2 separate regions of the Homo sapiens genome follow, and region 1 is linked to region 2. Evidence: fine-mapped expression QTL. Tissue or cell type: whole blood. Region 2 holds a variant in brackets; the other region holds the start of a gene. Each region is shown on its reference strand, or each on the opposite one.

What was found. PIP is the estimated chance that this variant, and not a neighbour inherited with it, causes the effect. A credible set is the group of variants that fine-mapping cannot tell apart.
Region 1: HDC starts here. The variant in region 2 is the best candidate, but not a certain one, in a credible set for the expression of HDC in whole blood (TOPMed, PIP 0.52).

Annotation. Positions count from the first base shown.
Region 1 is chr15:50,263,364-50,268,729 of GRCh38, forward strand. It overlaps HDC (histidine decarboxylase), which reads right to left and starts at 2,363. Exons shown (of 12, transcript NM_002112.4): 1 at 2,230-2,363; 2 at 1-44. The coding sequence starts at 2,260.
Region 2 is chr14:23,114,209-23,119,573 of GRCh38, forward strand. It overlaps CEBPE (CCAAT enhancer binding protein epsilon), which reads right to left and starts at 5,047. Exons shown (of 2, transcript NM_001805.4): 1 at 4,374-5,047; 2 at 3,098-3,614. The coding sequence starts at 4,883. The coding sequence ends at 3,279. RefSeq lists enhancers at 1-392, 558-1,757. The variant A/C (reference allele first, on the strand shown) is at 2,601.

The DNA of each region.
Region 1 (5,366 bases), not on the chromosome of region 2:
CACAGTGCTCAGGTACTGGCAGATGTAATCCACCATCTCTCTCCCTAGAAGTGACATAGAGAAATCAGGCTGAAATCCCCTGACTGGGCCTGACCGATTTGTGCCCATCCCTCTCAGGTCCGGGCCAAGAGACTTGGTAAAGAAGGAGATGGATTTGGCCGGGCACAGTGGCTCATGCCTGTAATCCCAGCACTTTGGGAGGCTGAGGCAGGCGGATCACGAGGTCAGGAGATCAAGACCATCCTGACTAACATGGTCAAACCCCTCTCTACTAAAAATACAAAAAATTAGCCGGGCGTGGTGGCAGGCGCATGTAATCCCAGCTACTTGGGAGGCTGAGGCAGGAGAATCGCTTGAACCTGGGAGACGGAGGTTGCAGTGAGCCGAGATCGTGCCACTGCACTCCAGCCTGGACTCAAAAAAAAGAGAGAGACAGATTCATGGGCCGAGGGTAGGATCTGATCCCCTGCACGACCTTATCTTCAGAATTTAAAAAAAGAGTGAGGGAGTGAATGAATGATGGAGGGAGTTTCTAAGTGAGCAAATGAACAAAAAGGAAAATCTCCAAAGCACAAAACTCTAGCGCCAAAGTGAAACGTTTCATTTTCTTTCCCCTTCCTTTATCCACTTCAATTTTGATTGTCTCTCCTACCTTTCTTTCCTTCTCAGAAACAGAACATCTATTAACTATTTTATAGGTTCAATAGAAACTCTATAGCTCTTTGTATCCAAAAATTGTTACACACACACCCACCAGTTATATCTGTTAGCACAGATAGAAAGATTCCATGCCCAGTTCCGATAAAGGACAAAAAAATCTATTTTTTCACCATCCCCATTGAATCAGTTATTATTCATCTTTTTTGGACTCATATGAGGACTTAATTCAAGAATCTGATTAAAACTGTAGGCTTACATATACACAGAACTTTGTGTATAATTTCTGAGGCTCACAGAATCCCTAAAGCACAACCATGGATCCAGACCAAGCCCCCTGCCCTGGCCTGGGAAATGTGGCACCAAATCTTAATGACTTTCTCTCCCTCCTGCTGCCTCCATCAACACCTCAGTGCTTAGGATATTTTTTAGATGCTAAAAAAAAATGTATCAAGTGAATGAACATATGAGTAAGGAAGGAAAAAAAAGTCAAGTTGAACACTCTGAAACTATTGCAAATTATTTATTCTTTCAGATTGCAGTCTTCAGTGCCTCTGTTGCTGTGTGTGCATGTGTGTGTGTGTACATATCTCTTTGTCTGTCTCAACATCCATTCCTTAGTACTCCCTGGGCTGCTTTTACCTAGGAGAGGGGACTCAGTTTCTCCCCTCTGCATCAGCTTATGCAAAGTTCTTAAGAACAGAACCAACCCCAGACAAAACTTATGAGACAAAGGTAGATTTCCACACCATTCTATCTTCCTTCTGCTCCCCTTCAACCCTCTCACATCCTGGTTCTTCTCCAGCAGGGCCCCACCAGAGATCTGAGAGCTCTAGACCTAACCCTCCACTGATCCAGGAACAGTGCTAAATGTATTTGTGTTCCACTCAGAAGATAAATATCCACAGGAACTTGCTCTCAGCTGACAGTGCCTTAGGAAAGCAATGGAATAAGCTAACGCACACTAATTAGTGAGTAGGAGGATATAAAACATTATAGAAATAGACATTCAAGATTCTTTTTTAAGCAACTACCTACTTTCCTGCTAAGGGAGATCCATGCCTGAGAACTGGATAACCACTTGGTTTTGCCTGATACAGAGTAGGCACCTACTAAATATTTATGAAATGAATGACTAAATGAAAGAACACTGCTGATAGATTCACACATGAAGGAATGAATGTTAAGAAAGAAAGGATTTGCAGTGATTACAGAATATTGAGAAAATTTTTTTCTATTTCAGAATATGAACAATCCCCTTTTCCCATCTAGTGGCTCAGGGATCCAAATCCTCAATTTTGTGGGAAAGTGGGGAGGAAAAGCAAGGCACGGTAGTGTGGACATATGTGAGAGTGGGTATATGAGAGGGAGAATGAAAGAGTGGTTGAGAAAAGTTTTACACTCTGATCCCACATTCCTTTCGCAGAAAAAAAAATGTTGCTGGTGCCAACTCTCAGAAGGCAATTCTAATGCTCCCATCAAATGTCACCCCAGAATCTAAGGGCCACCCACCAGCAGCCGTTCCTGCAGGAGTAGCAGCAGGGAAGAGGGCCAGGGATGCCCGTTGCTCACCTCTCTCTCTGTACTCCTCAGGCTCCATCATCTCCCTTGGGCTCTGGCTCCTTCTCACAGATGGACACGCAGGAGGTGGAAGGCGTGAAAGGCGTGGAGCAGCCCGGCTTCCCTCTTGCCAGTCCTGCGCACTCCCTGGCAGCCAGTGTGGGCCCTTTATTTAAAGGGTTCTTTCTTTGACCTTAGCTCCGCCCTTCAAAGTCCCTTCCTCCAGGTTTAATTAATTCCACCCTTTCTTTCCCCAGTCCTTGTAGAAAACAGCGACCACAACTTTGACTGGTCAAGAGAGCCAGGATAAAAGGCGCTTCTAAATTAAGCAGTGCACTTAGCAACCCAAGCCTGCAGGCAGCCTCCAGGTGGATGCCGTAAAAGAGCCCTCAGTTCTTTCTGCCCCTGGATTCAGACAATAGAGCTCCAGCCTCAGACAAGCTCCCAGCTCAGTAGACCAGAATAAGGCCAAGGGTATGCAGAAAAAGTAGCACAAATTATTAGTATTATTCCTGCCCCTGTTTCCTTATCAGCAGTAGGGAGGGAGGAACAGGCACTAATAGTGATGCCCCCTGTGCCCAGGAACAGGCAGAAGTTATCATTGACCACAATGGATTTTTCTATTACAACATACTATCTGTTGTTGCAAAGAATGAAAAAACACAGTTATAAGCCAAAAAGAATAGAAATTAAAACATCACCCCAAATTAATCACTTTTAGCACTTAAAGAAGTAGAAGGGGGGCGTGTAAAGGGACCTGCAGAAACCCCTGTAGGGAGGGGAAACACTATCCTTGGGGTTTGATTTCTGAGTAAAAAGTAATCCAACGTTTTCACGTTGCTAAATGCAATAGTCTTTCTTGTTTATTTGTTTCCAGTCGTCCTTCTGGTTCTCTTGGTGGCATTTTATTTGTTACTACTTCATCCTTGCAGCTCACAGTTTCTCTGGGCTTTCCTCCTACATCTCTGGCTGTTTGTTTCCTCCAATGCTGGCACACCTCAGGGCATTGCCCTCCTTTCATCTTTCTGCTTTGGTGGCATTGCCCATTTCTAAGGCTTTTTTTGTTTTGTTTTGTTTAGACGGAGTCTTGCTCTGTCGCCCAGGCTGGAGTGCAGTGGCACAATCTTGGCTCACTGCAACCTCTGCCTCCCGGGTTCAAGCAATTCTCCCACCTCAACCTCCTGAGTAGCTGGGCCTACAGGTATGTGCCACCATGCCCCACTAATTTTTGTGTTTTTAGCAGAGATGGGGTTTCACCATGTTGGCTGGGTTTGTCTCGAACTCCTGACCTCAAGTGATCCACCCGCCTCAGCCTCCCAAAGTGCTGGGATTACAGGTGTGAGCCACTGCGCCCGGCCCATTTCTTAGGCTTGAAATGTTACCTATGTGATATCCGTATAGGTTTAAACATACCATCAGGCCCTCCCTGTCTTTTGAGCTTCAAAATCTTATATCCAACTGCCTTTCTGACAAATCCTCTCTTATGACTCTGAGGCACCTCAAACTTAACGTATTGCAAAACTGTCTTTCCCCAAAAATATGCCCCACTTCTAGTCTTCCCCATCTCAGTTCATCATCTCTCCATTTTCCATCCACCCATCTATTCACCCCTTGACCGTCCATTCATCCAACCACTCATCCATCCAACCACCATCCATGCATCCATCTATCCTTTCATCCATCCATTCATCCACCCAAATGCTGAAGGCATAAACCTGGTGTCTTCCTTCCCCTTCACTTTCCCTGCTCCCTGCCCAATTCAATCTGTTCAGATTCAGTTCTATTTCCAAAATAAATCTAGTCTGTCAAATTCTCCCCATTTCCATGACTACCACCCTATTCCGGTCCAAGCCACCATTATCCTTCACCTAGACTAATGCAGGAGGCTTCTCATTGGCCTGTTACTGACCATGGGTTCTTGGGCTCTCAATGTAATAGAAATTGAGAAGGCCAAAAGAGTTTTCCCAGACAGGGCATTATCAGAGCTTATGCCCAGGCATAAGGGAGACAGCACGAGAGAGAGAATTCTCTGGCAGGCTCCTTGAAGAGAGTCAGGAAAGTAATTTTAGGCTAAAATAGGTAGGAAATTTTTTAATTACTACTGAAAAAACTACAGTGAGAAATCACTTCATACAGACTATGATGACTATAATAAAAAAGATAGATAACAACAAGTATTGGTGAAGACAGGGAAAAATTAGAACCCTCATACTTTACTGGTGGGAATGTAAAATGGCACAGCCATTTTGGAAAATAATCTGGAAGCTCCCCAGAAAGCTAAACCTAGAGTTCTTTATGACTCAACAATTCTACTGCTAGGTGTATATCCAAGGAAAATGAAATCATGTCCACACAAAAACGTATACATGGGTGTTCATAGCAGAATTATTATAATAGACAAAAATGGAAATAATCCAAATGTTCAGATGAATGAATGAAACGTAGTATATCAATACAACAGAATATTATTCCATGATAAAAAGGAATGAAGTACTGATACATACCAAAACATGGATGAACTTGGAAACATACTAAGTGAAAGAAACTAGTCACAAGGAACCATATATTATATTATTTCATTCATATGAAATATCGAGAATAGACAAATCTACAAAATAGATTCATGGTTAGAAGTGGGTAGGGAGCTGAAGATTGATGGCTAAGGAGAACAGGGATTTTTGGCAGGGTGGTAAGATGAAAATGTTCAAAATTGTTGGGTTTTGGTTTTGTTTTATTTTGCTTCGTTTTATTTTGCTTTGTTTTGTTTTGTTTTGAGATGGAGTCTCACTCTGTGGCCCAGGCTGGATTGCAGTGGTGCAATCTCGGCTCACTGAAACCTCTGCCTCCTGGGTTCAAGCAATTCTCCTGCCTCAGCCTCCTGAGTAGCTGGGATTACAGGCGTGAGCCACTGCGCCCTGCTGAAAATGTTTTAAAATTTATTATGGTGATGGTTGCACACTTCTGTGGATATACTAAAAGCTATTAAACTGTACACTTCAAACGAGGAAATTTTATAGAATGGGAATTATATCTCAATAAAACTGTTGATTTAAGAAAAAAAAAAGCCCTAAGAAAATAAGGGCATTGGTGAAAAAATGGCCTAGAGGATTTAGATTCCAGTGATATTGTCAATAAATCCTTCATTAGGA
Region 2 (5,365 bases):
AACTGCCCTTCCCTGGGCTCCTTTCTGTCATCTCCTTCCCCAGTGGGGACAACCTTACTGTGGTAAAGGTGCCAGGAGGACCAAGGGGCAGGGAAGCTGAATCCAGGGGCAGAGAGAACCCTGCTCTCCACCTGCCCCGGCTTCTTAGGCACCATCCTCCTTGACAGAGGGAATGAAAATAGTCATTTGCAACCCCTGCAGCCCCATTCTGGAGGGAAGGTGCATCTTTTTCTTACTTATCCTCTCCTTCCTTCTTTCATTCAGCATCTACTCCTGGCTTCCTTTCTCTCGGTCACCTTAGGGCTTTTGCATTTACCCTTCCCTCTGTTCACCCTTACACTCAAAGACATACCTGCCTCCTTCTCAAAATTTTTGAAGTGTCAACTAAAATGTCACTTCCTCAGAGATACCTTTCTCGGCCACCCCAGCTAAAATAGCCTCCCTACCTGTTGGTTTATGTGGTTTCCCCAATGGGCTATTCAAATGGAGTAAGCAGGAGAAGTTAATTAAGGTGCTTTATGAAGATGTGAACCAACAGTATCTGGGGAAAGTTCCTGGAGTGGTGAAGTCCCCTGGGCTAGCCCAGCACGGGGGGCGCCTGAGGGCCAGGAATCCTTTGGGAGGGACTGTGGAGAGCGCCGGTCAGCAGGGGGCTCCCACCACTCTCCTCCTGCCAGTCTCACCCCCACCCCATGAGAGGCTGGTTGATGTAGGGAGGCATCCACCTGGGGACTGTGTAGGGTGATGAAGGGTGGAGAGGGTTCTGGAGGGGCAAAGGAAGACATTCAGCACACTTGTTTATTGACTTTTTCTTCCTACTCCTTCTGCTGAGAACTTGTCTCATTCCTAGAAAAGATACTCAACAAATACTTGTTGAATAAGTTACGTTGGCCAAAACCAATTGAGGTCAGATTGAAAGCCTCTTTCAGGAAGTGTGCCCTCTGGCTCTGACTCACACCCCTGGAATATGATCTGATGCAGAGGATTGGGATGTGTTCAGCTGCTGCACGTCACGCTGGGATCACAGTGGGGAGACGGGGATGTGACTCCCCCAGACTGGGTGCCAGTCAGGAAGGCTCCACTAGGCACCGGCCCTGAGGACCTGACTGGGTGAGCGGGGGCCTGAGAGGAGAAGCAATTCAGAGCTGTGGGAACAAAGCCTGGGCTTCATGCTGAAGCAACCCAGGTCCCATCACCCAGAACCTTGAAAGTAAGTCAAGGGACAGTGGTCTTGAGCTGAGAGGAGGAAATCCGGAGGTTGAGTCATTTACCATGTTCTGTACAAACCCCCCTTATGCAACCTATCCCCCTGGGCTGAAAGGAAGGTGTGAGGATTCTCCCAGGTGCCCACAGAGACTGGTACCTCCCCTCCTTCTGAACTCAGGAAGCTCCAGTCGGTCCCTCCACTGAAGGTTCAGATCTCTCCCTCCAAACCAGACCTGGGGCACGGGCCTCCAGGACACAGAGGTGCCCGAGAGACACAGAGGCAAAGGCAGGAAAAGGACTGAGTCCTGGGCAAGGTAGACATGCCGCACACGGATGCCCGAGGTGTGGGAGGGCTCTACCGCTGGAGATTTGAAGAAGGGAGAGAGATCTGGGATGATCCAGACACCAGTCTCTCACCTTCTCAGAAAATTATTCCTTGATGTCTGACTCAGCCTTTCACAGCATTGGCTTAGGAGAGACTTTAAGAAGCCCGTAATCTGTCCCTGGGTCCCTGACACTGTTGGGCACTGTTCTTTATTGAATGTGATTCATGTGACACTCGTACTGAGGATCTGTGAGAAGAGTGTAGCGTGGAGTAGAGAGACAGGTACCACGTACTGAGGCAGCAAAGGGACTCAGTGAGTGTCAGGAGAAGCCTCTTACCCCTCTGGCCCTCAACTGCTTTATCTGTAAAATGTGGCTCACCCTACCTTGCTGGTCTGAGGGCAGAGCCCACCAGATGATCTCTTGAGGTCTCTCCCAGCACATCTTGAGATCTGCGATTTTACAGAGCCAATTTTGGTTCTACCTCTAAACAATCGTGTGACTCCAGGTAAGTCCCTTCCCCTCTTTGCAGCCTGTTTTCTTACCTGCAAAATGAGTTTAGATGAGATCTCTGAGGTCCTTTCAGTTCCAGCAAAATGGAGGAATCATAATAAATATGCTTATTACATGCAAAGTTTTCTTTTTCTATGAATATAACAACACTACGGAGTGGGGACAAATATTGCAACCATTTTGCAGATGAGGAAACTGAGGCACAGAAAGACATAATGGCTCAAGGCTCACAGCTAGTAAGTAGCAGTGTAAGATTCAAACTGAGGCTCTTAATTATTGTACCATTCTGTCTCTTAGGCTGTAGTCCAATGCAAAAGAAAATGCTGTTTCGAATGATGGGTTTCCCTGGCACGGGCAGATTGTCATCCTCCTTCTCACTACCAGTGTTCTCATACACAAATCCGGTCTCCAGGTCTTTCCCAACCGATTCCTGTCCCATGCACTCAATTCTCAAGCTTTAGGGAACTGGAGCCTCAGGGATGAGGGACAAAGGATGGAAATGAATGGGTGGGAGCAGCGTGGGGAGGGTGTCCATCTGGTAGACTGAGGCTTTGGAA[A/C]TGGAGAGAAGAGATGGCGGGCTGGATCAAGGGACCATAAATATGGCAGAGCCATCAGGAATTTTCCCATGGTCACCTGGGGCAGGAGCTCCCAGACCTATACCTCAAGGTGAGAGAGAGTGGGCCTGGGATCAGCAGGCCTGGGCATGAAGGACTGTGTGGTGCCGGGATCTCCCTACAAGCTGAAGATCTTTGTTAGCAGAGCATACAAAGGTGCTCCAGGTCCTGTGGGGGGCGGGGATGTGCCTTCAGCTCACAGAAGGGGGTGATGGGGGATGTCAGGGAGAGAAGAGCAGAGTGACAGATACACGGCCTGGCTGTGTGGTATATTGGGGGTGGGCTGTGGACAGCATGTCTGTGTTTCCACATGTCCACTTGGTCATGGAAACAAGAGGTGCAGACCTAGCCACATGCATCCTCTGTCCCCAGGGTCCTCCATGACACACACACACACACACACACACACACACACACACACACAGCCAACAGTCCCAACACCCAGTCACAGTGCAACTTTATTCAGCCATATAATCATTATGCTGGGTCCTGCCCTCTTTGCCACCCCGGTTGCCATTTATCCATGGTCTATGTCTCAGGGTTCTAGGCCCCCAGCAGGATGGGGGTCCGCAGAGTTAGGCCGTGCCAGGGAGCCTGGTGCCCACAATCCACCAGCCAGCCTCAGCTGCAACCCCCCACGCCCTTGATGAGGTTGGCCGCCTCAGGAATCTGGCGGAAGAGGTTGCGGAGGGTGTCTAGCTCCTGGGTGAGCTGCTCCACGCGGCTGCGGAGGCGCTCGTTCTCTGCCATGTACTCCAGCACCTTCTGCTGCGTCTCCAGAATGCGCCTCTTGGCCTTGTCTCGGCTCTTGCGCACGGCGATGTTGTTGCGCTCCCGCCTCAGCCGGTACTCAAGGCTATCTTTGTTCACTGCCTTCTTGCCCTTGTGTAAGGGGCCAGCCGGGGAGGGCGCCTTCAGGAGGGGACTGCAGGGGGGTGCGGCAGTGGCCAAAGGGGCCTGGAGGGGAAGGCACGGAGAGACGGAGAGGTGAGGGCTGGCCAGGAGGCAGAGCGGAGGCGGGGCGGGAATCTCGGCAGCCAGGGCACACTTGATGCGTCAAAGGAATACAGGACTCAGAGCCAGCTCCTGTCTCTCAGGTCAAAACTATCATCGCTCTGCTTCTGGGAGATGGTGACCCAGATGCACAGGGTCCTCTGCTTGAGACCAAAACTCCCTTTCATGTTCTCACACTTTCTTTCTTTCTTTTTTTGTAAAGATGGAGCCTTGCTATGTTGTCCAGGCTGGTCTCCAACCCCTGGCCTTAAGCGAACCTCCTGCTTTGGCCTCCCAAAGCGCTGGGATTACAGGCATGAGCCACGACACCCAGCCAATGCTCTCACACTTTCTGAGTACACTTTCCCTCAATCTGCCTTGAGTCTCCCGTTCTATGACCAGTAGACATTTCTCACAGAAGCAGGCGGCAGAGAAACAAGAGGAGGGGGCATGGTGAGCAGCAGAGAGGCTGGCGGTGGGGGCCTGAGATCAAGTAGGTCAGCTTGCCACAGGGGCTTTGGGTGGGGATTCAGGGTGGGAATGAATTCACAGAGAAGGAAAGGGAGGTCATGGTGGGGTGTGAACACAGAGGACTGTGGGTTGGGTCCATTTCACAGAGCGACACCAAGCACAGGCTCAGCAGCATGAGCCGGGGCACAGGGTCCTGTCCACACCAGCCTCTCCAGCCCCGGGCAGGAGGGAGGAGGGCTGGCCTGCTCTTACCTTGAGAACGCGCAGAGGCTGGCCGGGTGCTGCCAGAGTTGGGGGCAGGTGCATGGCTGTCTGCCCACAGTGTGCCACTTGGTACTGCAGGGGATTGTAGCTGCCTCGGCTGGCAGCTCGGCTGCCCTCTGGCCCCCGGGGCTCCTCCTTCACCGCCACAGCCCTGGGGTCGTAGCTCCCTGGGCTGCTGTAGATGCCAGGCCCCAGCGCCTTCCTGTCTGGGCCGAAGGTATGTGGAGGGTAGGCAAAGGGCCGAGGGTCAGGCGGCAAGTAGTGGGGGAAGGCAGGGGTTCCGGGGCCCTTGAGGCCTCTGGCCTCAGGCGCTGGCTTCACGGCAAAGAGATCGGAGAGAAGCTGCTCTTCCCCAGACTCGATGTAGGCGGAGAGGTCAATGGAGGCCTCATGCTCACACATGTCCCCTAGCTCCCCGGGCCCAGCTCGGCCCCCTGAGAACTCGAGTGGCTGCTGGCCACCCCGGGGCTCACACTCGTAGTAGGTCCCGTGGGACATGGCCGGCCCGCCCCCTCGGCTCCCCGCCCCCACCTGCTCTTGAGGCACCCCTTGGGGTGCTCCGGCTGCCCTCTCTCTACCTCCTCCTGACCTGGGCCTGCCCTCTCTCGATCTTCTGCCCTAGACCTGCCCTCTGCAGTCTCCTCTGTCACCCACTCCTGTGTGGCCTCTCTCCCCCCTCTGCTCTGCTTCCTTTTCCTTCCTCTGTAGTCAATGCCTCTCTTCTCTTCCCTTTTTTCCCCTCTCTCCCCTTGGGGTGACTCAGGGAGGGGCAGGACACACCCCAGAGGGAGAGATGTAAGCCTTAGAGAAAGGCGACTCCTGGCCTATTCAGCAGTTGGGGACACTCCTTGGTCAGGGACCAAGCCAGGGTTCTGGAGATGCCCGAAGCTGATGCTTCTGGGAATGCCTCTCCACTCCCTGCTGGGAGGCCAGGGGACTCCAAATCCTCGCAGAGGGCAACACCCCACTCTGAGCAACCT